Linked DNA regions of Homo sapiens: region 1 is linked to region 2. The links come from fine-mapping of genetic effects on gene expression. Tissue or cell type: blood mononuclear cells. Region 2 holds a variant in brackets; the other region holds the start of a gene. Each region is shown on its reference strand, or each on the opposite one.

Evidence for each region. PIP is the estimated chance that this variant, and not a neighbour inherited with it, causes the effect.
Region 1: SMTN starts here. The variant in region 2 is the best candidate, but not a certain one, in a credible set for the expression of SMTN in blood mononuclear cells (TOPMed, PIP 0.88).

Annotation. Positions count from the first base shown.
Region 1 is chr22:31,075,201-31,086,775 of GRCh38, forward strand. SMTN (smoothelin) reads left to right here and starts at 6,118. Exons shown (of 21, transcript NM_134269.3): 1 at 6,118-6,256; 2 at 7,979-8,109. The coding sequence starts at 8,059. RefSeq lists silencers at 6,000-6,159, 9,558-9,837, 10,018-10,207 and enhancers at 9,238-9,307, 10,526-11,152.
Region 2 is chr3:151,936,056-151,947,630 of GRCh38, forward strand. The region is part of intron 1 of LOC107986047 (a long non-coding RNA gene); the gene reads right to left. Among named protein-coding and RNA genes, the nearest start is that of AADACL2-AS1, 14 kb to the left of the region's middle. The variant G/C (reference allele first, on the strand shown) is at 6,873.

The sequences.
Region 1 (11,575 bases), not on the chromosome of region 2:
TCTCTGGGCCTCATTTTTTTTCTTCGTCTAAAGAAATTAGCATCTGTCTCATAATGCCATGGGGAATCAATGGGAAAATACAAAGAAAGTGCTTAGCAGAGTGCCAAGGAGGGACAGTGTGCATGCTCAGCAATTGAAGGCTGCCAAGTTCCTGTTATCATCAGGGGCAGTGTTCCATCCATCAAAAGGGCTAAGAATAGTCTTAGCCCGGCCAGGCGCGGTGTAATCCCAGCATTTTGGGAGTCCGAGGCAGGTGGATCACCTCAGTTCAGGAGTTCAAGACCAGCCTGGCCAACATGTCAAAACCCCGTCTCTACTGAAAATACAAAAATTAGCCAGGCGTGGTGACGGGCCCTTGTAATCCCAGCTACTTGGGAGGCTGAGGCAGGAGAATCACTTGAAGCCGGGAGGCAGGGGTTGCAGTGAGCCAAGATTGCGCCACTGCACTCTAGTCTGGGTGACAGAGCGAGACTCTGTCTTAAAAAAAAAAAAAAAAAGGAATAGTCTTAGCCAGTGGGGGTAGGGTGAGGAATAAGTAAGTTACTGTGGGCTAAGCTTTAGCCCAGTGCCCAGCACATATTATAAACTTCATAAGCAGTTGCTATTTTAAAGGGTTTTTGTTTTGTTTTGTTTTGTTTTTGTTTTTGTTTTTGAGACAAGGCCTCGCTCTGTCGCCCAGGCTGGAATGCAGTACTTTTAAAGTTCTGAACCCTGTTGGAGGCCAATATGAGACCATGGGGGACCCCAGGCCCCAACTGGCAGTGGCTCCAGGCACTGCCTCCGTGCCATTTGGCTATTATTAGGCCCGGCGTCCTCATCTCAAATCCAGATGGGGATCGAGAAGGGCGGGTAGGGCAGGGCCTGGCTGGCGGAAGGCTGGGAACACGGCTTGGAGGCTGGGTTTGGGTTTGGGCCCCACCCTGCCTGCCTTCCCTTGCTTGCAGCTGGTCCAGCCGCCACGTCTACACTTGGCTCTGAGGTTGTTGCAGAGCACTCCCTCCCACCGTGGCCGCCTCCTCTGGGAAGATGCAGAGCCCTTCTGCAGCCTCAGCACTTTTCTCCCTGCCCCAGAGAGGCCAGGCCTGCGTGGAAACTCTGAATTGGACACTGCGTGCCTTCAGAACCGGCAAAGGAGCCATCCACCCCGCTGTCTACAGGTCTTCATGCCTCCAGTGAGGCTTACTGGATCTGCTGAGGGGGAAGGGCCTATATACCTGGGTTCAAATCCCTTCGCTACCACCAACATGCAGTGTCAACTTGGACAAATGACTTCCCCTCTCTGAGCCTCAGTTTCTTTGCCCATAAAAGGGACAGAACATTAGCATCTGCTTTATAGGGCTGTGGTGATGGTTACATGAGTGCATGGTATGCCATAGGCACTCAATATGTGTCAGTTATTTCATGCTTAAGTGTGCCAGGCCCTGAGGAGGAAACAAAGTTTTGAGAGGTTGAGAATCTGGGATGCAGAATGGCTCTGCTCCTGATTTGCTACACTACCTGAAGCCTGTCCCTTGTCCTCTCTGGGACTCAGTTACCTATTTGAACCATAAGGTGGGTATCTAGGACTCTGTGATGCCAAGATTCAGGTGCTATGTTCAGAAGTAGAGAGAAGGGTTTGCTGGGATCCCACACTGACAGGTTGGTAAAATATTCATTCTCGGACTGGACTCTGGAGCCAAAATACCCTCAGCCCCTGAGCTGCTCCAGATACTCCCTACTCTGCCAGTCCAGAGCTGAACCTGGAAGAATCTAGACCCTTCTTGTTACAGTTTTTTGCCCTAGGAGGGCCTGAAGGAGGCGAGTCAAACCCCCTCATTTTACAGATGGGCAGACTGAGGCCCAGGTCTCCCCAGTGCTCAGGCGTCATCCAAGTGGAGCTTCCAAATGGTGGATGGTAGAATATGGTGATTAAGAACAAATGTTCTGGCCGGGCGCAGTGGCTCACGCCTGTAATCCTAGCACTTTGGAAGGTCAAGGCAGGCGGATTTCTTGAACCCAGGAGTTCGAGACTAGCCCCGGCAACATAGGGAGACCCTTGTCTCTACAAAAAATAAAAAAATTAGCCAGGCATGGTGGCACGTGTCTGTAGTCCCACTGTGAGCCTGGGAGGTCAAGGCTGCAGTGAGCCATGGTTGTGCCACTCCACTCCAGCCTGGGCGACAGAGTGAGACTCTGTCTCAAAAACAAAACAAAACAAAAAAAAAAACAACAAAAGAACGAGGGTTCTGAGCCTGTCTCCTTATCTGTATAATGGTGGTCCTACCTCACAGGACTCAAGCTGTGAAGGTCATAGTGGTAACAAAATTGCCACACATGTAGTATAAGCATGATCAGGAGCCAGTGTCCAACCCATCAGGTAGCAATTACATAGTGTCCCACCATGAGCCTAGACCCCCACTCCCTGCGCCCAGGCATCAGGGACTCCCAGAAGTCTAAAGAGGTCCAGGCTGGCACATCCAGAACTCTCTCCTTCCTGTTCCAGCCCCTTGCCTCTCCTTTGTCTGTGAGGCTGGGTCTCCTGGAATTCACTGCTGCCCAGTGGGCATCTGAGGCCCCTTCTCCTCCTGCAGGGCCAGAAGTTTGCCTGGCACTGTTGCCCAGAGAACACAGCGGCTGGATGACATCCTGGAGATGATGGCCTTGCCAAACTGGTTTCCCAGCAGGTCCTCAGTCCCACTCCGAGGGCTGCTGGCCATGACCTAGGACGCATCCAGTTCTGCACATAAGGAGGAAGGTCATACCCCTTGGATCCAGCCAACCCCAACAAGAACCATCCACCTCTAGGGGCTCCATTCTCCAGCCTCACCTGCCTGTCTGTTGCCCAACAAGGTCGTCACAATCCTACTTCCGTTCCTTTGCTAATGCTGTTCCCGTCTCCAGAATGACAGTGCTGTCCTGGGGAGAGAGGCTTAGAGAGCCCAAGGCACAGCTCCTCCATTGTGCATATGAGCAAGTTGAAGCTCCAAGAGGGCCAACCCTTACCTAGGGTTGGAGCCAGGGGTAAGACACCCATCACCCTTCTTGCCTCCTGACCCAAGGCCTGGGCTTTCTCTGAAGGACCCTGACTGGGTGGAGGGTTAGCCAGGGTGACTTAGGGATGCAACACAGACAGCTTGGTAAAATAGTCATTCTCAGACTTGAGCTCTGGAGCAAAATATTACCCCTAGCCTCTGAGCTGCTCCAGCCACTTCCCATTCTGCCTTTCCAGGGTTGAACCTGGAAGAACCTAGAGTAGACCCTTTCTGTGACAGCCCCTTGCCCTAGGAAGGCTTGAAGCAGACCAGTCTAATCACCTCATTTTACAGGGGGCAGGCTGAGGCCCAGGCCTCTCTGGTGCCCACAAGATACATTCATCCTGCTCATCTGGCATTCAGAATCCTTGGCAAAGAGAACCACCCACATTTCCTGCTCCGCCCACAGCCTATCCTCCTCCTTTTCCCAGACTATTGGTCTTTGCTCACACTGTTCCTCTGCCACAAATGCCCTTTCATGCCTTTCCCCCTCTTCTATGTGGGATGAATTTTAAAAATTAGCTGGGCGTGGTGGTGTGTGCCTGTAGTCCTAGCCTCTTGGGAGGCTGAGATGGAAGGATTGCTTGAGCCAGGAGTTTGAGGCCATGGTAAGCTGTGATCATGCGACTGCACTCCAGCCTGTGGGACACAGCAAGACCCTGTCTCCAAAAAAAATAAAATAAAATAAAAACAAGTGTGACACACAGTTTATACACCACTTCCCTAAGAAGTCTTCCAGAGCTTCCCCCATCCTAGTGGCAGCAAAGTGGAGGGAAGGGGCTTCAGCATCAGGCAGAATTCCACTTTAGTCTGAATGCCTTTACTAGGCCAAGGTGCCTTCACCTCCCTGAGCTTCAGCTTCCTCTGTCGAATCAGAGTGTACCTATCTTGCACAGTGGTCACCTGGCAGTAGTGGGAGCCCCACGTCTGACATGCAACAGGTGTTCAGCAAATGCTGGGGCCCTCGTCACGGGATGTTTACTCTTTCCTCGGCTGTAGCTGTAAACTTCCCTAGCACTGTACCGGACTGCCCTTTGATCTCTAGATCACCCCCACTCCCTTGCAGAGAGGAAGACAGAGGCAGGCGGGTATGTCTGGAGGTGGACCCAGGCACTAAGGGCTTGAAGGGGCAGGACCCACACATCCCTTCCATAGGGCCAAGGGCTAGTGAGCGCATGTGCCAGACAGTAAATCCAAGCATGGAGGAACTCACCTGTACCATTCCTCCTAGCCTACAGTAGGGCAGGGAGAAAGGAGGGCATTAGCACAAAGCAGGCCATTCATTGGAGCTGGTGACCGCCATTCAGGCAGGCCCTGAAAATCAGAGGTGGCCTAGGTGTGCCCTGCATGAAGGGGAGGTCCCAAGGGACGCGTGAATTTTGAAGTATTCAGAATTGGTCTTAGAGGGCGCCTGACCCTCGTTCTGGATAATAACATGGCATCTCGCCCAGGTAGAGAAAGCCTAGGACCTTGAAATATGTCCTCCGAAGTGAGCTCTGTTTGCCTCTCCTGCTGTGTAGCATTGACAAGTCGCTTTCTTCTGTGCCTTGATTTTCTTTTTTCTTTTTTTGAGACAGAATCTTGCTCTGTCGCTTAGGCTGGAGTGCAGTGGCACAATCTCGGCTCACTGCAACCTCTGCCTCCAGGTTCAAGTGATTCTACTGCCTCAGCCTCCCAAGTAGCTGGGATTACAGGTGCATGCCACTTGCCCGACTAATTTTTGTATTTTTAGTAGAGACGGGGTTTTTGCCGTGTTGGCCAGGCTGGTCTCGAACTCCTGACCTTGGGTGATCCACCTGCCTTGGCATCCCAAAGTGCTGGGATTACAGGCATGAGCCACCGCACCTGGCCCGTGCCTTGGTTTTCTGATGTGTAAAATGGGACCACTTCTCAGGGGTGTGGGGATGAAATGAAATGACACATGGAAAAGACTCTCAGTGTGGAGACTGGGCCTTTCCTTAGATGGGGGCTGGGGGGTGTCACAGAGGACCTGAACCGGGGCTCTTCTGGGTTAACAGGCTGAAACCACCTCCCCAGAATCCCACATTATAGTGGTTAAAAGCAGGGTCTGGACTCAGAAGGTGCTGGGTATGAATCACAGCTTTACTACTTATCAGCTGTTGTCCTCATCTGTAAAATGGGGCAATAGTCATGGTCTCATGTGCTTGTTATGGGCATTATATGCCTGGTACATGGCAAGTACAAAATAAATGATTTGTTATTGTTTTTATTTGACAGGACTCCAGACCCCATCCTCCCAACTCCACCCACTTTAGTCTCCATGGAGACCCAAGGGCGGCTTTAGGGCCTCTGGCACTGAAGATGGAATAGCTTTGCCTTGTGGATCTGACCTCCTGGGTACCCTGGCTGATTCCTTGTTTGGTCTTGGACATGTCAGCTCTCTCTGGGCCTCAATTTCCCCCTTTTGCTGAATGACAGCCTGGACTCCATATTCCCTATTTAGGACTCCAGCGCTCCTAAAGGCAGACTCTCAGGGCTTGGAAGGTAGAAGCATGCTACAAGAAGGCAATGTCTGTTCAAAGGTGTGTGGGCTGGGGGAGGCGTGCTGTGTGATTGATTCTGCTCCACCTGAGATGGTCCCGGCACTCCAACACAGGGTCAAGGTGCTGCCAGTCACTCAGTCCCTGCTCTGAGGTGGCTCAGACCAGGTGTCCCGAAAGCAGCCTAGGGACGGCGGCCAAGCTTAAACACTGACGCGAGAAAGGGGTGGAGTCGAGGGAGGGGACGTGGTCTCAGGAACAAAGAGGAGGGCGGAGAGGGGCTGTCCTGAAGGCTCTGAGACTCCTACGACCCCAGGAAACTTACCTCGGCTCGGGGCGCCCCCCCCGACTTGGCGCAGAGCCTGCGTCCCCCTGCCGATGCCCACCCGACTCGCTAAAGCCACCGAGGCAGACGACCCCAAGACTCCCAATTTCCGACCTCCCTGGCCCGCGAGGGGCGGGGCCTTCCTCTCGGGGCGTGGCCGTCAAATTGAATTTTCCCAATGGGGCACGAGAGTGGGAGGTACCCAATCGAGGGTTGGCTGGCGCGTCGGGGCAGGGCGGGGCCAGCCGGGCTGCTGGCGCGGCTGGACGGGCAGCTCTCCGCAGAATCCAGGGGACGGTTGCTGAGCGGGCCTGGGACAGCGGGTCGCGGCACCTCCGGCCTGCGCGTGTCTAATCCGTCTGTCGGGTCCCGAAAGAGCTAAGCCGAGCCTGCGCCGGACGGGTGGGCTGGACTGAGAGGTGGGTGTGCGGACCTCGGGGGGGATCCTGGTGCTGCCCCAACGTGTCCGGGGGTGGAACCCGGATGTCTAGACAGGAGTTCTGGAACGTCCAGACCTGGGAGCCCCCACCCATACGAGAGGTCTAAGCCATGGGATAAAGTTATGAGACTGTTGGGGGAAGACGCCCCCGGATTCCTAAGAGACTCCACGCCCCACAGGGGCGCTAGTCTGTGGCGGCAGAAACCCTGGGGAAGCTGCCACAGAATCCTGAGGCCCCTCACAATGTCCGGCGACCCCAGACTGTGTGACAGGGAGATTGGAGAAGAGCAGCGGCAGGGATCTTCTTATAATCCCATGGGTGTCCTAGATTAGGCATTAGGGTCAGCTGCCCCATAGAAGAACAGACATGGGGGGAATCAGAATGTCCGCAGAACCTAAGGCTGGTGACCACTGGACAGTCTTGAAGAGGTTTAACCCAGACAGAGTAACTAGGTAAGAGGCAAGGATCCTAACAGGCAGAGATTGGGAGGTTGACACCTCTGAGCCTACCAGGATGGGAGGGGGAACAAGCAGTGACTTGAACAGGCTGGGACCCACACACCCCAACTGTGTGGAGCGGTAACCCTCACCCCCCACCCATGCACCGTATGGGGTGACTTCCCAAGTGACTGTTCTGAAGAGAGGGAAGGGATGATTGAAAGATGAATCAACAGGAGGTGGGGGGCAGGCCTGGGGCCACACATTAGTCAGTCACCATACATTAACTAAGCATCCACAGTGTGCCAGACCAGGGCCCCTCAAATTCCAGACAGACATTAGTTGGGGCTACAGGAGGAAGGAGAGATCTGCGCTGGGAGGCTGGGCCAGGATTTAGGGGTCCATTTTGATGGGCAGCACTGGGGCAAGATGGGGCTCTTGCCTCTGTCACTGAGAGTGTTCCAGGCCCTTGAGGGCACTTTGGAAGGGAGCTTCGGAAGCCGGAGATGACGAAGATTTTGATTACATCCTTCTCTGCCCTCTAAGTCTTTGGCTTCCTCCTTGCTCAGTGACAAATCCTTGGCCCTCTCCAATCTTCTCAGTTTGCCTGAAATCCAGGGGTTGGGCAGGTCAGCTTCTGAAAGCCCTTCCAGGTGGGGAATTGAATTCTGTATGAATTGGCAGGAGGTGCTGGGTGCCTGGACACCTGGCTTCAGGAGGTCTGGACAGCAGAGCTGGCTCCAAGAATCGGAAGACACAGTGTACCTTCCTATACCTGGGGGAATGACAGTGGTGGTGGCAGCAAGAACTACGGGTTCAGCCCACAGCCAGAAGCTGAGCCTGCGGAGTGGGTGGGGGCTGGGTAGGCCCTGTGGATGGGTGGGTGGGGCAGGAAACTGGAGACTGGAGTGCACCCCCTGGTGGTAAGCACAGCTTGGGTGGGTCTTGCCAGGCCCTGGCTTCTCAATCCAGGTCCCTGCCCTCCCTGTTTTGAGGTTTAGACAGGATGAGAGTCCATCCCAGGCCACACAGCAGACTGGCGGCCAAGCTGGCAGGGCTGGAACCAGAGACCCCCTACCCTGGGTTTGGTGAGTTTTCCAGCAAACCACCCTAGGGCAGAGGGCAGCTTCCAGCCAGGAGCCACATTATAGGATGGGACAGTAATGGACGCTCCTAGGTTAGAGAGGGAAAGTAAGGCACAGAGCCTAAGTGCCTGTGGTTTCTGGAAGCCCCAGCATGCCTGATTCATGTCTGTCCCCTGCAGAATTCTCTGAGCTGGTGACAGGTGCCACAGGCACTGGGGATCTCACCAGAAAGGAACCGACGGAGCTAGGGGCCAGCGAGATGGCGGACGAGGCCTTAGCTGGGCTGGATGAGGGAGCCCTTCGGAAGCTGGTAAGTGGCCCCATCACCCACTGTGGGGACAGGAAAGCCAAGCCAGAGAGGCAGGGTCAATCCAGGGTACCTCTCAGCTGACAGGAAGAAGTGATGGGGGAAAGGTCAGGAGGAGGGGGACATGGGAACAGGGGTAGGCCAGTTCCATGTGGCTGATGCAGAGGCCCTTGTGGCATGTGCCTGTCCATGCCTGGTACTGAAGCCTAGTCCCTCCCAACCCTCCACAGCCACCACCTGTTTAAACAGTAACTGCTGTAGACTCGCCCGTATGCAGCCACAGGTGTGGGGAGGCTGGATATGCCTCTCCAGAGCAATAGCTCGGGCAATGCCCACCCCTGGAAGCTGGCCCAGTGATAATGGTAGCAGCAATGATTAATAATGCCAAGGCCTGGCAGGGGGCAGGCTGGGTACTGGGTATACCATGTCACAGAATAATCACAGCAGCTCTGAAAGCCTGGGCACTGCGACTCAAGAGAGTTAAAATCACCTGCTCAAGGACACCCATCTAAGAAGGAGCTGTGCCAAAATCCCAACCCCATAGTGGGCCACGGGGGACCAGAGTCCTGGGAAAGTCAAGGCTGGACGAGGCCATAAGAGAGAGACAGGTTTTGTGGGCCCTTATGGATTCTGTGGCTTCTCATCTCATTTTTCTACTCTTGAGTCTCAGTTCCTCTACCTGTAAAATGAAGGGAGGGAGGGAGATGTGTTTGCACACAAGCTCTAGGTCCTAGAGTTGGCATGGGGACAGAATGAGGCATGGACCCAGATCTCAGGTGGAGGAAAGATGAGCCCACTCCATCCCCTTTCTTGTTCCTCTTCCTGAGAGCCCTGTCTACCTCCATGCACAGAGGCCGTAGGGCAACCCAGTGGGGCAGGGCTCCTTCCCCAACCCCAAAGGCCAGGCAGCCTGACCTGGAGGAGGGGCCAGAGGAGCTCCATCTCCTCAGTCCCTGACCCTTGTCCATGGGGGTAAATTAAAGATTTACTTTACCTAGAAGACAAGTGACCCACCCCACTCTCATACCTTCCCCCGCAGGCAGAGGCTGGAACCAACCAGCGTAGCCCAGCCACTGGGCAGTGCCCAGCTGCTGCCATGACCTCCCCAAGGCACTCTGCCTGTATGTTCTCGGACCAGCGCATTAGACTCTCTGGGTGTCTGCCTCTCCACTATCACCGCAGGATGTGTGCAGCCTGGAGGGGATGAGGTTAGGTTTCCAAAGGTGCCCGCCAGTCAGTTCGACCTTCCCTCAGGAAGTCCAAGTCCCAGTGGGGGTCGTAGAGGCAGCACAGTCCAAAAAGAGGGAATGCCAGGCCTGGTTCCCGCACATCCTCATCTCAAGGTATCCACAGGCAGGCTCAGGGTTCTTCAGCCGCCACCTCCCTCTCTTAAGCGAGGCTCGGGCGGCGCTGGAAAAGAGTTTTGGAGAGAAGCTGGAGCAGTGGTTGAATCTCTGGGAAAGGACAGATGAGAACCTGCCCCGGTCTCGGGATCGGTGCCTCTCGAAGTCTTTCCGACCCCGGGAGCGGCTCCTCCAGCACCCGGCGCCCGCCATTACTGCGCCCCGCGCGCCGGCCCGGCCCCCGCTGGCCTCGTGGCAAGAACGGGGGCGTCCCGAGCCGGGCTCCTCCCCGCGGGGCCGGGCCATATAAGGAAAAGCTAGGCCCGCTCCGCCCGCCCTGCGCCCCAGCGTCTGGCCGATTTGGGGACGCGGGCAGTCGCTTCCGGCCCCGGCTCCCGCACATTCTTGAGGATTGGGCCGGGGATGGGAGGAATGGGGACGCCTGGGGACTTGCACGCCGCGTGCCCCTCCACCACCCGCCGGGACGCCCTCTGCCTCGGTCCCGAGTTCGAGTTCGACCTCCGCCACTCAGCTGGGTGTCCTGGGGACCTTGGTTTCTTCCCTTTAGATCCGGACACTGAAGCAGGCGGTAGCGGGTGTCTTCCTACCTGGCTACCCCTTCGGCGCCTAGCGCGAGGCAGGGTGGGCGAGGCGAGGGCGGCGCCCTGCGAGGGAGGGCGGTCGCAGAACCTGCGGGCCTTCAGCGCCCCCTGGCGAGGCTTCCCTCCACCGCCGGCGGGACCCCCATGGGCAACCGGGGGAGCTGGGACTGAAAGCCTGGAGAGCCCCCTCCGTTGTGCTGTTGGGGAGACTGAGGCCCAGTGAGACCTCAGGGCCTGCCAGGCGTTCCCAACAGCGAGGGCAGAGAGTACACGGAGAGCCGGCTCCCCAGGGGGAGGAAGCACCCTCTTTCCTCCCGGGAGAATTTCACTGGGCAGTTTCGGAAACCGCCCCATCCCCTTCCCCTTCCCCCTCGGTAGACAATGGCGCTTTGTACTTCCTTCCCTCCCTCCCACAGCTCCCTCCTTACACAGCGGTGGGGCCTGGGCGGGTGGAACTCGGGACACACAGAGGAGACACTGTGGTCCAACCTTTGCCTCCAGGCCCAAAGGGAAGGGTCGTGCCAGAGGGTGACCAGTGGAATGAGGTTGTCAGTCTCCAGCCTTGCCCACCCACTTTGGGGGATCAGAGGGAGGCTCCCATTTTCCAGATGGGGACACTGAAGCTCCGGGGGTTGTGCTGTAGAGGTGGCCAAGTTCCTACATCAGGCTTTTGTCAGAGACAAGGACCCCATCTCCGAGCCCAGAGCACTGAGAATGGGGACCTAGGAGACAAAAGGCTAGCCCTTGCCCCTCTGGGCCTCTTTACCCTCTGTACAGAAGGGGCTGGACCCTCTGTCCCCTCCAGCCCCCAGCCTCCAAATGTACCACAGAAGGCTCTAGGCCTGAGACACAGCCAGCACCGGGGGCTGGGGAGTGAGCCTCATTCCCCCCGCCTCTGCTATAAGGCCTCCTTAGGCCTCAGAGCATCTCTAGTCCAGGCTAGAGGGGTCTCCAACACAGTGCCAGGATCCCTGAGGTCCCCACCATGACACACAGACCCCAGTAGCAGAGCTATCTTCAGCCTAGGGCAGGCCCTGGAGTCAGAGAGACCTGGGTTCAAATCCTGGCTCAGGTCATTTGACCATGAGCAAATCACATGTCCTCCCTGGACTTCAATCTCCTCATCTGTCAAATGGGAATAACAGTAGTATCTAGGGTTTTTGTGGGCTTAGGACAAGTAGGGGGCTCAGCACAGGGTTTGACTCACAGGCTCTCCATAAATGTTACTGATGCCTCGGGGTATCCTGCCCTTCCCATTTGCCCCCTTGTCTCTCTCCCTCCTCCTGACTGGCTAGAACCAAGTATGGGGGTGATGCTTATTGCAACTGCAGCTATGTACAGGAGAGGCCAAGTCACTGTTCCCAACCCCACCCACTGGCAAATGAAAAAACCAAGACACAGAGAGTTTAAGGGATATGCTCTTGATCACCCAGCCAGGATTGGACTAGGGCTGGAACCAACTAAGGGCTCTGGCCTGAGTTTCAGGGGGTCTTCTCATAATTCCTCAGGAATGTGGAGCCTGGA
Region 2 (11,575 bases):
AGAGAAGAATAAAGCCCAAGATCTCCTTGACAAATCAAAATTCAAAGGGAGGGTAAATATGTACAACTATTATGTATTCATAATAATTAAAAATAAAATATTTTAAAAAGGGAGAGTGTTATATATATCTATCTAAATTTCTATATATTAAGTAAAAAAAGTATGACTACTTTTGTATAATCTTTAAACAATACACAGAATTTAAATGTTCTTATTATCTCTGTAGTTTCTATCTCATCCAGTCTCTGAGAAACCGAAAAAATGGAGAGTCTTTAACTGAAAGATGCTAGAGTCACCTCAGTGGCCATTTGAAGACCCACTGTATCTTCTGTGCCTTGAAAAGAAACCCTGGGTGATCTGTTCTTTGTCCACCTTAGTTGTATATGGGGTGAGGGGGGTGAGAGATGGTTTGAACATTTTCATTTAGCTGAATTGGATATAACTGAAGAAATAAAAAAAGAATAGATGCTGAATGAAACAAGAGGAACAGACATCCAGAAGTGAGGCACCTTGTGACTGACCGCTACCTGACCTGACACATCACACGCCATACACACAATAACTGGTTTCCACTTCTACTTCCTCCTTTAATAGAACATAGAAGTCTTTTTTTCTTATCCTGGTTCACAATCATCAAAATATTTTTTGGCTCTTTTCACTGGTAAAAAGTATCTATAATCTCTCCGATAAACTAAAAGCACTTTCTTCTTCAAACAGAATGTTACTGATGTGGGGAACATCTTGAGAAAATGCTCTACTTTCTAAAGTAGCCTTGTGACTGGTCTCAAGACAGAAACACTTAAATAGAATCCTATGAAGAGCCACCATCCTCCACACACATATCTTTTCATGAAATGTGGGAAGTGGGAGGCAGGAGAGGGCTTCAGAAACATTTTTGTGAGATGGTTTATGGAATGGAGTTTAGGTACACATAAACCTAGACAGACATACAAATATATACTTGTTTACCCAGGTTGAAATTCTGAACCTTCTGAAGTCTGTCATTCATGAGAAGGTACTTAATTATTCATAGACTGGTTACAAAATTTGTACTTATTTTCCAGGAAATGTAAGTAGAAAAAGACATGGTTCTGGTGTTAAATAAAACCCTATCTGTGCAGAAGACATTTGATTCATTGTTCAAAACACATTCATGCCTACAAAAATATGACTCCTGTTTAGGTGCCAAAGCTGGTCAGAGGCTGGCTTACATGCTGCATAAGTGTTTTTTGCTTCCACCCTGCTTGGATGTAGTCTGATAAATAATACTGCATGTCCATGGGCTTTAACTATATTATTAATCATCATTTAGAAAATGTACATATTTGTGTACATTTATTTCCATAAGCAATTTCATTTTTCCCATTCATCTTCCTACATTTATTAAAACACTAAAATTTTAATATGATATGAAAAATGTACATTAAAAATATTAGATTGGGGCTCCTTGGTGCTTTCCCTCTGCTTACAATTAGTGCTTTAAAAAGAATAAATACTCATAATTACACATTTCTGGCTTTTCTGAAATGCTTGTCATTATTTTCATGCCACAATGTGATTTATAGCTTAAGTGAATAAGGTCCATTAAAGAGTTGAGACTGATCAAAAGCGGGAGATTTGAGTATCCAGAGGTTGTTTTCAACTTCACAAATGCCATACATTTGTTCTTTAAACCCTAACTCCCTAATTTTCTTGCTATAGCGTACAAAAAGAATAGAAACATTCAATAATTGGCCTCTTAATTATATAAAAATAGTCCTTCTCCAAAGAAGCATAACAAGAATTTTAACATAAACTTTCTCGTAATCCCTCAACTTCTCTACTAATGTATTACCAAAAATAAAATTTCAGGGCAGCCTTTCTGACTACATTGTTTAAACCAATTCAACATAGCATATGGTCTCCACACACAAAAGTATAGGAAATACAAGTTGTTAATAAGATGTTGTGTTATATGACAGGTTGCCAATGCTCATGCAATACCCACTGGATAACAGCTATCTAACTTTAAGATATTAGATTTGTTTTAAATCAAAAGAAACTTAGCCTAAAGTCATTTATGCTGACCTAGATGCAGCCACAGAAAATCAGCAAGTGAGAGATAGAGGAATGTTTGGTACAAATAAGGATAATTACCTGCAAATTAAGAGGTAATCAGTTTTCAACACGAAGAGCCAAAGGACTACTCTTGTATTACTATCTCCACCATTCTCTCCCAGAATCCTAACTCCGAAACTGCAGACCAAAAGTCTATGGGAAATTGGTAATTTAATGAGACAATAAACATTTAAGAACTATAATGACAGTAGTCTGCCTCTTTGAAGGAAGATGTAAAAGGATATTTTCTGTGACTGCTGAGATAATAATCATGTTTGAAGTCTATTGACTTCAAGGGATTTCTGGTAGGTGCTTAGCTAGCACCTACCACCAGAATTCCCAAGTATACCAGGAGGGGCTTAAATATAAAGTATTTGATTGTTTTCTCATGTTAAGTCTACAATATCAAGAAATAAAGAGTGTTGTTTTGAAGAAATCAAGCAACTGAAAGCATTTCAGGTGTTTCATAAGTCATCAGAATTCATCTGTGTGATAGGCACAGTTCAGTTTTACTCTTCTAATCAAGATGTTGTTGATTTTCAAGAAGCTAATATAAAATACAGCATAATTTCATGCAATTTTTAAGGTGCATGCCTCTATCTTAAATATCCAGATAAATGGTATATCGGATACACTTTTGGCTGCAATTAAGGAAAGCTCTAACAATGGGGTTAAATTATAAGGAAATTTCTATTTTGCTTAACAATAAGTCTAAAAATGTGTTCAGTATCACAATAGTATAATCAAAGTCTTTGATTACCATAACCTTTGGACTTGATCACTTTGATGTGTTACCTTTTCACTTCCATGCTCATTGCTTCATGGTCCCAAAAGGGCTGCTGAAGTTCCAGGAATCATATCCAGCAGCAAGGCAGGAAGATGAGGTAAAGAATGTCATTAAGCTTCTCTCCTCTTACGCTACTATCTTTAGTAAAAAAAGCAAAGGTTTTTCCAGAAATCCCCAGAAACTCCCTCTTAAATTTAACTGGTCAAGACTGTATCACATGGTCACTTTTAGTAGTAACATGATTGAAAATAATATATTTGGCCCTTTCAGCTTTTATAGAGGAAAGTGGAAAGGGGCAAAGGTGTTGTTAATGGCTTTTATGTCAGCCAATCGCCAAGGTCTGCTAAATTAGAATAAGGTAAATGCCAATAGCCTGATAATAGGGTTTCGCTAATTGAAATAAGAAATAAGGAGCTCCAGTTGCACAATCGGTTAGCAAGTTGTACTTATATAAAATAAGGAATAAACAAATCTTTTCTATACAGGATGGAGGAGTTAGAAAAAGAAGCTATTAGCTTTCCTGTAGCTCCTTTGATCCCTTTTATGTCCTGTTACCACTGGGTTTGAACCAGTCTCCCTCAAATTGGTATTTTATTTTATATTTTTTGAGACAGTCTCACTCTGTCGTCCAGGCTGGAGTGCAGTGCACGATCCCGGCTCACTGCAACCTCTGCCTCCTGGGTTTCAAGCGATTCTTCTGCCTCAGCCTCCCGAGTGGCTGGGATTACAGGTGTGTGCCACCATGCCTGGCTAACTTTTTTATTTTTAGTAGAGACGGGGTTTCACCACGTTGGCCAGGCTAGTCTCAAACCCCTGACCTCAAGTGATCAGCAGCCTCCATTTCCCAAAGTGCTGGGATTACAGGAGCGAGCCACCATGCCCAGCCTAATTAGTATTTTAATAATAGATTATACCTCAAAATAATTATTTTATACAAAACAGTAATGTGAATGAGCAAAATACAAATATATAAAACAGCATAAATGAATCTCATATTCTTGAGTAGGAAAGAAAGACACAAACAAGTACATGTTATGATTTTATTTACATAAAGTTCAAAGGCAGGAAAAATTAATGTGGTAATAAAAGTCAGACAGCAGCTTTTTTTGTGGAGACAGAGTGTGACTGGAAGAGGATATGAGGGAGACTTCTAAGATACAGTATTATTCTGTCTCTGGATATGGGTCCTGGGTTTTTTTTGTTTTGTTAAGATCTGTTAAGCTATACATCAATGGTCTTTGCATATGTATATGTGCATATACAATATTTCAATATAATTAAAACAAACAAAAATGTAATAAGAGAATCACTTGCTTTGATTTATTATGGCTGAGTACCACTAAAATAATAAGATTTGGAAATTTTAATATTTAGGTATTTGGGGACCTATCTCCATATATTGCCTGTATAAGATGAAAGCTAGTTATCTCTCAAATCTGATGGATTGATTTCATCTCAATTGGTTGTTCAAGGTGAATTATTTGGATGAAATAAAAATAAATCAATAAATACACACACATACGTTCACATGTATATGGATGTCTGTTTAGGAATTGTTAAAGTTCTGCTCTAAATATTTTTCGTTCCCACAGAATATTCACAGAAAACTTGATCCAGTTGAGGTTGCAAGTTTTAAACTTTAGCTCCAAGAGGCCCGCAAACATACTTTCTTGTATAAATTTCTGTGCATAGTAGTAGTATCTTCTACAGAAGGAATGGTGTTTTCTGCCAAGTTGAATTAAGTGCACAGAGCATGACTTTTCAGGGAACACTGTAACTATTGTATTACATGGTGAAAACACTGCTACTTATATTTTCACTGCAAAAATACAGTAGTCTTCAAATATATTCATGACTTACATAGAAAAGGGCTAGAATTCAGTAGCCCTAGCCAGTGTCAAAGTTCATTTTATACCATTTTATGAAAAATAGTAATTAATTTAAATCTCCAGATAAATGTGCCTATTTATATGTAGACATGACCTAGCAAGGAAAACTATATAACACAAGATGTATGATAGCAAGGAAGCAAGTCTTCTAAAAACTGGGTCTGATTCTGTAATCCACACAGAATCTTGTATGAATTAACTATCCAGGAAGGAAAACTAAGAGCTACATTCTAGTTTTCAAAGATAGAAAAAAGTCTTAGGAATCATGGGGAAGAAGAAACTGCTGAGATGTGAAATACAGTGGGTTAAAGAGTATTCTGTAAAAGACAATGTGGTAGAAGATAAATAAGCAGATTTATAATTTGTTCCTATGAACCTTCTCTACTTGCAACTTGCTAAAAGTCATGTTTTAATTAACTGGACAGGGATCCCTTTCTTCTCAGCATAGCTCCAAATATGTCCTTGGCATATTTAAAACTGCATAAAATAAGCAATAATGCCCTGACAATTCTGGCTTCAAAAACTGGCCATTTTATCCCTGAGTAGTTTTCCTGAAATGAAGGGCCAGCACTCTCAAGGCAGGCTTTTGACTCCTGTACCAAACTATAATTCACTTCTAACCTATAAACCCAGATAGAGAGTAGTGGAATGAAGGAGAGCTTTCTAATATCATATAAATCTATAAAATAGAGAGTCTTTGGTAGGAGCAAATACACATCATAAAATTATGTCCTCTACCTTTAGCAGCTGGGAAACATTACACACTACCACAATTCAATGGTGCCCTTTTAATTGCACATGCTTAAACAAAATACCGCATTATAATTACATTTGGCATTTCAAAGAGTCAAGAGTTCAAAACTGGAATGTGTTAGAATGAGAAAAATTATAACCAAATATCCCACATCAGGATGCAGCTTTTTGGACAAGCACAGTAATTCAGTTTCGGTATTTCATAAAAAGTGGTTTATTTCACTTTGCAATTTTCCATTTATTAGAAAATATCATTCATACAAAACAATATATAAATGCATATATTGACTTAAATAATTTTAGTAAATGATGCACCTATGTGTCCACTGCTGAGGTTAAGAAATAGAGACTGGCCAGTTTTTTCCAAATCCTCTATACATCTTCCCAATTATATCACCTTCCCATCCTACAAACAGAGGTTTTCGTCATTTTGACTTTTATAATAATCATCCCACGTTCTTTCGGCTTTAAATGATTTTACCACTTATGGATATATTTCTCCTATTTTTGAACCTTATGAATATGAATTCCTACACTATAATGTCTATGTCTTACTTATTTCATTCAATATGAGGTTTGGGTAGATTCACTGGGCAAAGCTCACATGTAACTGTCTCTCATTCAGTTTCCCTGCTGAACAGTGTTCCACCTTAAAACCAGTCTACAATGTATTTTCCATTCTACCATTGTCGGACATTTTGGTTATTTCCTGTAATATGTTATTAATTTTTATACATTTATTCCAGGAGTGAAATCCTTAGATCATATATTATGAGCATATTCAAACTTCCTATGAAATGTTGATCTATTTTTTAAATGTTTGGGCCAATTTATACATCATACCACCAATATTCATAAGTTCCTGTTGCTCCACATATATGCCAACATGACAGTGTCAGATTTAGTTTTTCACCTAAAGATTGGGTAAGACATGGTAACTCTTGTGGTTCTAACTTGCTTTTTTATTGCTAGTGAAGTTAGGCATCTTCTCATATTCCATAGTTTGAATGTAAGTGAGTAGAGTACAATGAGATATTTTGAGAGAGAGAAAGAGACCACATTCACCTAACTTGTATTACAGCATAACATTTAATTATTCTATTTTATTATTAGTTATTGTTGTGAATATATTACCCTGCCTACTTTGTAAATTAAACTTTATCATAGGTATGTATTTATGGGAGGGAAACATAGTGTGTACACACACACACACACACACACACACACACGGTTTAGTAGCATCCTCAGTTTCAGTCGTCCACTAGGGATCTTGGAACATATCCCCTGAGGATAAGGGGGAGACCACTGTATTGAGAATTTTGTGTTTCTTTTGAATTGTTAAACAT[G/C]TTAGTCTTTGTCTTGCTTTTTTGTTCTGGATACTTCTTTTTTAGGAACTTTTAAGTATAAAATCAGCTTCTTTAATAGACAGAGGACTAGTTGAGTTGCCTATTTATCTTGAAATTCTCTGTTATTATTCTTTTGATATCTTTGGATTTTGTAACGAAATCCTCTCTCTCTTTCCTAGTATTGGTAATTTACATCCTCTATTTTTTTCTTTGTTAATCATTGTAGATATTTATTAAGTTTATTGGTCTTGCTTTTTTTTTTTTTAAAGCACAATTTAAAAAATTTGTTCATTGGCCAGGCGCGGTGGCTCACGCCTGTAATCCCAGCACTTTGGGAGGCGGAGGTGGACAGATCACGAGGTCAGGAGATCGAGACCATCCTGGCTAACACGGTGAAACCCCGTCTCTACTAAAAATACAAAAAATTAGCCAGGCGTGGTGGCGCCGCCTGTAGTCCCAGCTACTCAGGAAGCTGAGGCAGGAGAATGGCGTGAACCCTGGAGGCGGAGCTTGCAGTGAGTTGAGGCCTGGCCACTGCTCTCCAGCCTGGGGGACAGAGAGAGACTCCGTCTCAAAAAAAAAAAAAAAAAAAAAAGAAAAGAAAAGAAAAAGAAAAATTTGTTTATTGTTTTCTGTTTTCAATTTTAACAATTTCTGTTCTTATATGTATTACAAGATGCATTGCTTAACGACAGGGATATGCTCTGAGAAATGCATTGTTAGGCAATTTTGTTGTACAAACATCAGAGTGTATTTACACAAACCTAGATGGTATGACCTCCTGCACATCTGATATAGCACTAGGCTATATGGTATGCCTATTGCTGCTAGGCTACAAACCTATACAGTATGTTGCTCTACTGAATACTGCAGGCAACCACAACAGAATGGCACTTGTGTATCTATGTTTAGATACACAGATATAGCAAAGTTCATGCAATGCACTGGGACCTACAATGTCAACTAGGTGATAGGAATTTTCCTGCTCCATTATAATCTTTTGGGACTACTGTCGTACATGCAGTCCATCATTGACCAAAATACTGTTGTGACACATAACTGTATTTTCTTCTGCTTCTTATTTTACTATTGTTTTTATAGTTTCTTATACCGGAAATTGAGATTACAGAGACTTTCCTCCTTTTATAATGTATGTATTTACTGTTACACATCTTCCCTTTGTGCATTGCTTTAACTAAATTTGACTTAATTTGTTATGTTGCATTTTCATTCAAAATGTGTTCTAATTTCTCTTGAAACATTTTCTTTGACTCATATTATTTTGAATCATGAGCTTTAATTTTCAAATATTTGAAGGTTTTGTTTTTTTCTTTTGTTATTTATTTCTAGTATAATTCCATTATGGTCAGAGAACATACTTTGTGTGATTTCAATTATGTTTGTTAATGTGTGACTATGAGCCAGAATATCATCTATCTTGATGAATATTCCATGTGTCCCTCAAAATAATGTGTATTTTGCTATCTTTGGATAGAATTCTATAAAAATCAAGTAGATAAAGTTGGTTGATGGCATTGTTTTGTTCTTCTATATCCTTGCTAACTCTGTTAACTAGTCCTTTCTGTTACTAAGAAAGAAATGTTGACTGTCCAACTATATTTGCTGATATGTCTATTTTTTCTTTCAATGCTGTAGGTTTTTGCTTTGTGTGTTTTGAAGATCTGTGGCTTAGCTCATATAAATTGATAATTCTTATGTCTTCTTGGTAAATTAAGCCTTTTTATTATGTAATGTCCATCTTTATTCCTGGTAATCTTTGCTCTGAGTCTGCTTTGTGATATTAACATAGTCATTCCAGTTTTTGTTTGATTAGTGTTTGTGTAGTGATATGGTTTGGCTGTGTCCCCACCCAAATCTCATCTTGAATTCCCACATGTTGTAGGAGGGACCCAGTAGGAAGTAATTGAATCATGGGGCAGGTCTTTCCCGTGCTGTTCTAATGATGGTGAATAAGTCTCACAAGATCTGATGGTTTTATAAGGGTAAGTTTCTTCGAACAAGCTCTCTCTTTGCCTGCTGCTATCCACATAAGATGTGACTTGCTCCTCCTTGCCTTCTGCCATGATTGTGAGGCCTCCCCACCCATGTGGGACTGTAAGTCTATTAGACCTCTTTCTTTTGTAAATTGCCTAGTCTTGGGCTCATCTTTATTAACAGTGTGAAAAGGACTAATATATGTGGTATATTATTTTTCATCATTTTACTTTTAACCTATCTGTGTAACTATATTTTAAGTGGCTCTCTTTGCAGCATATAAGTAATTTTTAAAATCACTCCAACCATCTCTGTCTTTTAATTGGTGTGTCCAGACCATTTATGTTTAAATTAATTATTGATGGGTTTAGATTTAGGACTATCATTTTATTTTCTGGTTTTGTACTTATTCCCCTTATTTTATATTACTCTGTTTCCTATTTTAAGTCTTCTTTTGGGTAAAAGAATTCAAGATAAGAAGACTAACTTATTACATTTGCTTTGGTCTGAATATTTGTTTCCCCTCAAAGTTCACATGTTAAAATCCTAACCCCCAAGGTGATGGTTTTAAGAGGTAGGATCTTTGGGATTTGATTAGATCACAAAGGTAGAGCCCTTATGAATGAGATTAGTGTACTCTTATTTTAAAAAAAGGCTTAAGGGAGGTTGTTTGCCACTTCCATCATGTGAGGATACACTAAGAAGGTGCCATCTATGAGCCAGGAAACAAGCTCTTAGCAGACACTAAATCTGCTACCCCTTGATCTTGGACTTCCCAGTCTTGAGAACTCTGAGAGATAAATTTCTGTTGTTTATAACCTACCCTGGTTTATCGTATTTCTTTAGAGAAGCCCAAATGAACTATGACAACTTTTCATTGAAATGTTGCTCTTTCTTTTCTTCTCCCTTAATTCCTGGAGTTTCAAGTGTTTTGTTTCAGAAACAATTTCCCTTCTATCTAAAAACCTTCCTTTAGAAATTCTTTTAAAGCATGACTGATAGATACAAGTTCTTTCAGTTTTCTTTCATCTGAGGACATTTTTAATTTTATATCTAAATGAAATATCCTATCTAAATGAAATATCCTTCAGTAGTGAGAATTTCACTACTGAAGGATATTTCATTTAGATATAAAATTCTGGATTAAACATAATAAAACATTTTCTTAATTAGGAATTGACAGTTTTTTCTTTCAGCATTTCTTCTTGTCTGCCATGATTTCTGATGAGAAGTATTGAAGTTTCTAAATCATTCTTCCCCTATAGTTAATGTGTCACTTTTCTTTGGCTGCTTTAAGCACTTTTTCTTCGTCTTCGGTTTTCAGCAGTTTTATTATGATATGTCTGTGCATAGATTTCTTTGAGTTTATCCTATTTGGGATTTGCTTCACTTCTTTTATACATTTTCTAAAAAATAAAGTTTGGAAGATTTCTGTCATTATTTTTTATTTTTTTCATCATTACCCTATCTTTCTGAAACTCCAGTGGCATGGTTAGATCTTCAGGTATCATCCTGTTGGTCCTTGAGATTTTGTTCTTTTGTAAGTTGTTTTCTTTGTCTTGTTTCGGTTAAATGAGTTTTTTCTCCTGATCCGTCTTCAAGTTCACTGACTCTGTGCTCCGTTATCTCCATCCTGCTGTTGAACTCAGTGAGATTTTTATTGGAGGATAGAAGAAGGTGTTTATTGTATTTTCCCATCCTAAAATTTCAGTTTGGTTCTTTATATCTTTGATTTCTTTGCTAAAGCTTTTTGTTTAACCTTTGTTGCAAGAGTGTTCACAATTGCTTCTGGAAACATTTGTATAATAGCTACTTTAAAGTCTTTGTCAGCTAATTCCAACATCTATTGTCATCTCAGCTTTGCTGTCTGTTGATTGTCTTTTCTCATGTGAATTGAAATGTTTGTGCTTCTTTCTATGCTGAGTCATTTTTGACATTTTGTGAATTACTTCAAGATTCTTTGGAGTCTTGTTTAAATTCTACGCAGATTGTTAATATTTTGTTTCAGTAGGTTTGGGCCACAAGTTTTTGTTTGTTTGTTTCTTTTTTTGAGATGGAGTTTCACTCTTGTTGCCCAGGCTAGAGTGCAGTGGCATGATCTCGGTTCACTGCAACCTCTGCCTCCTGGGTTCAAGTGATTCTCCTGCCTCAGCCTCCCAAGTAGCTGGGATTACAGGTGTACACCACCGTGCCAGGCTCATTTTGTATTTTTAGCAGAGACAGGGTTTCACCATGTTTGTGAGGCTAGTCTTGAAGTCCTGACCTCAAGTGATCCACCCTCCTCAGCCTCCCACAAGTTCTAACCCACCCCCTATAGACTGTGGTTCCAGTGTTAGTTCAGTGTTCCAAACCTTTGTTGTGCTGTTTGCTCTCTCCTGGGTATGCACTCCACAGTGTTCAGTCTGGGACCTAGACTATCTGTTAGTTCAGTGCTCATAGATCTTTGATGTGCTGTTTGGGGTCAGATCTATGCATATGCAGGTTACATGAAAGTCCTATCATTCCTAAAGGACTTTCTTGGGTCACTTTTCTGAGCTCCTTTCTCTCCACAGTCTCCCCAGTACTTTGGCTTCCTGTGGCTTCATTTTTTGGTGGGCTGTCTCATGAAATTACTCTTGTCAAACTCTGTAATGCATTTCTATGATGGAGCACACATTCTCGCTCTACTGGAGCAAGGACTGAAAGATATAAAAAGCAATGGCATTTGC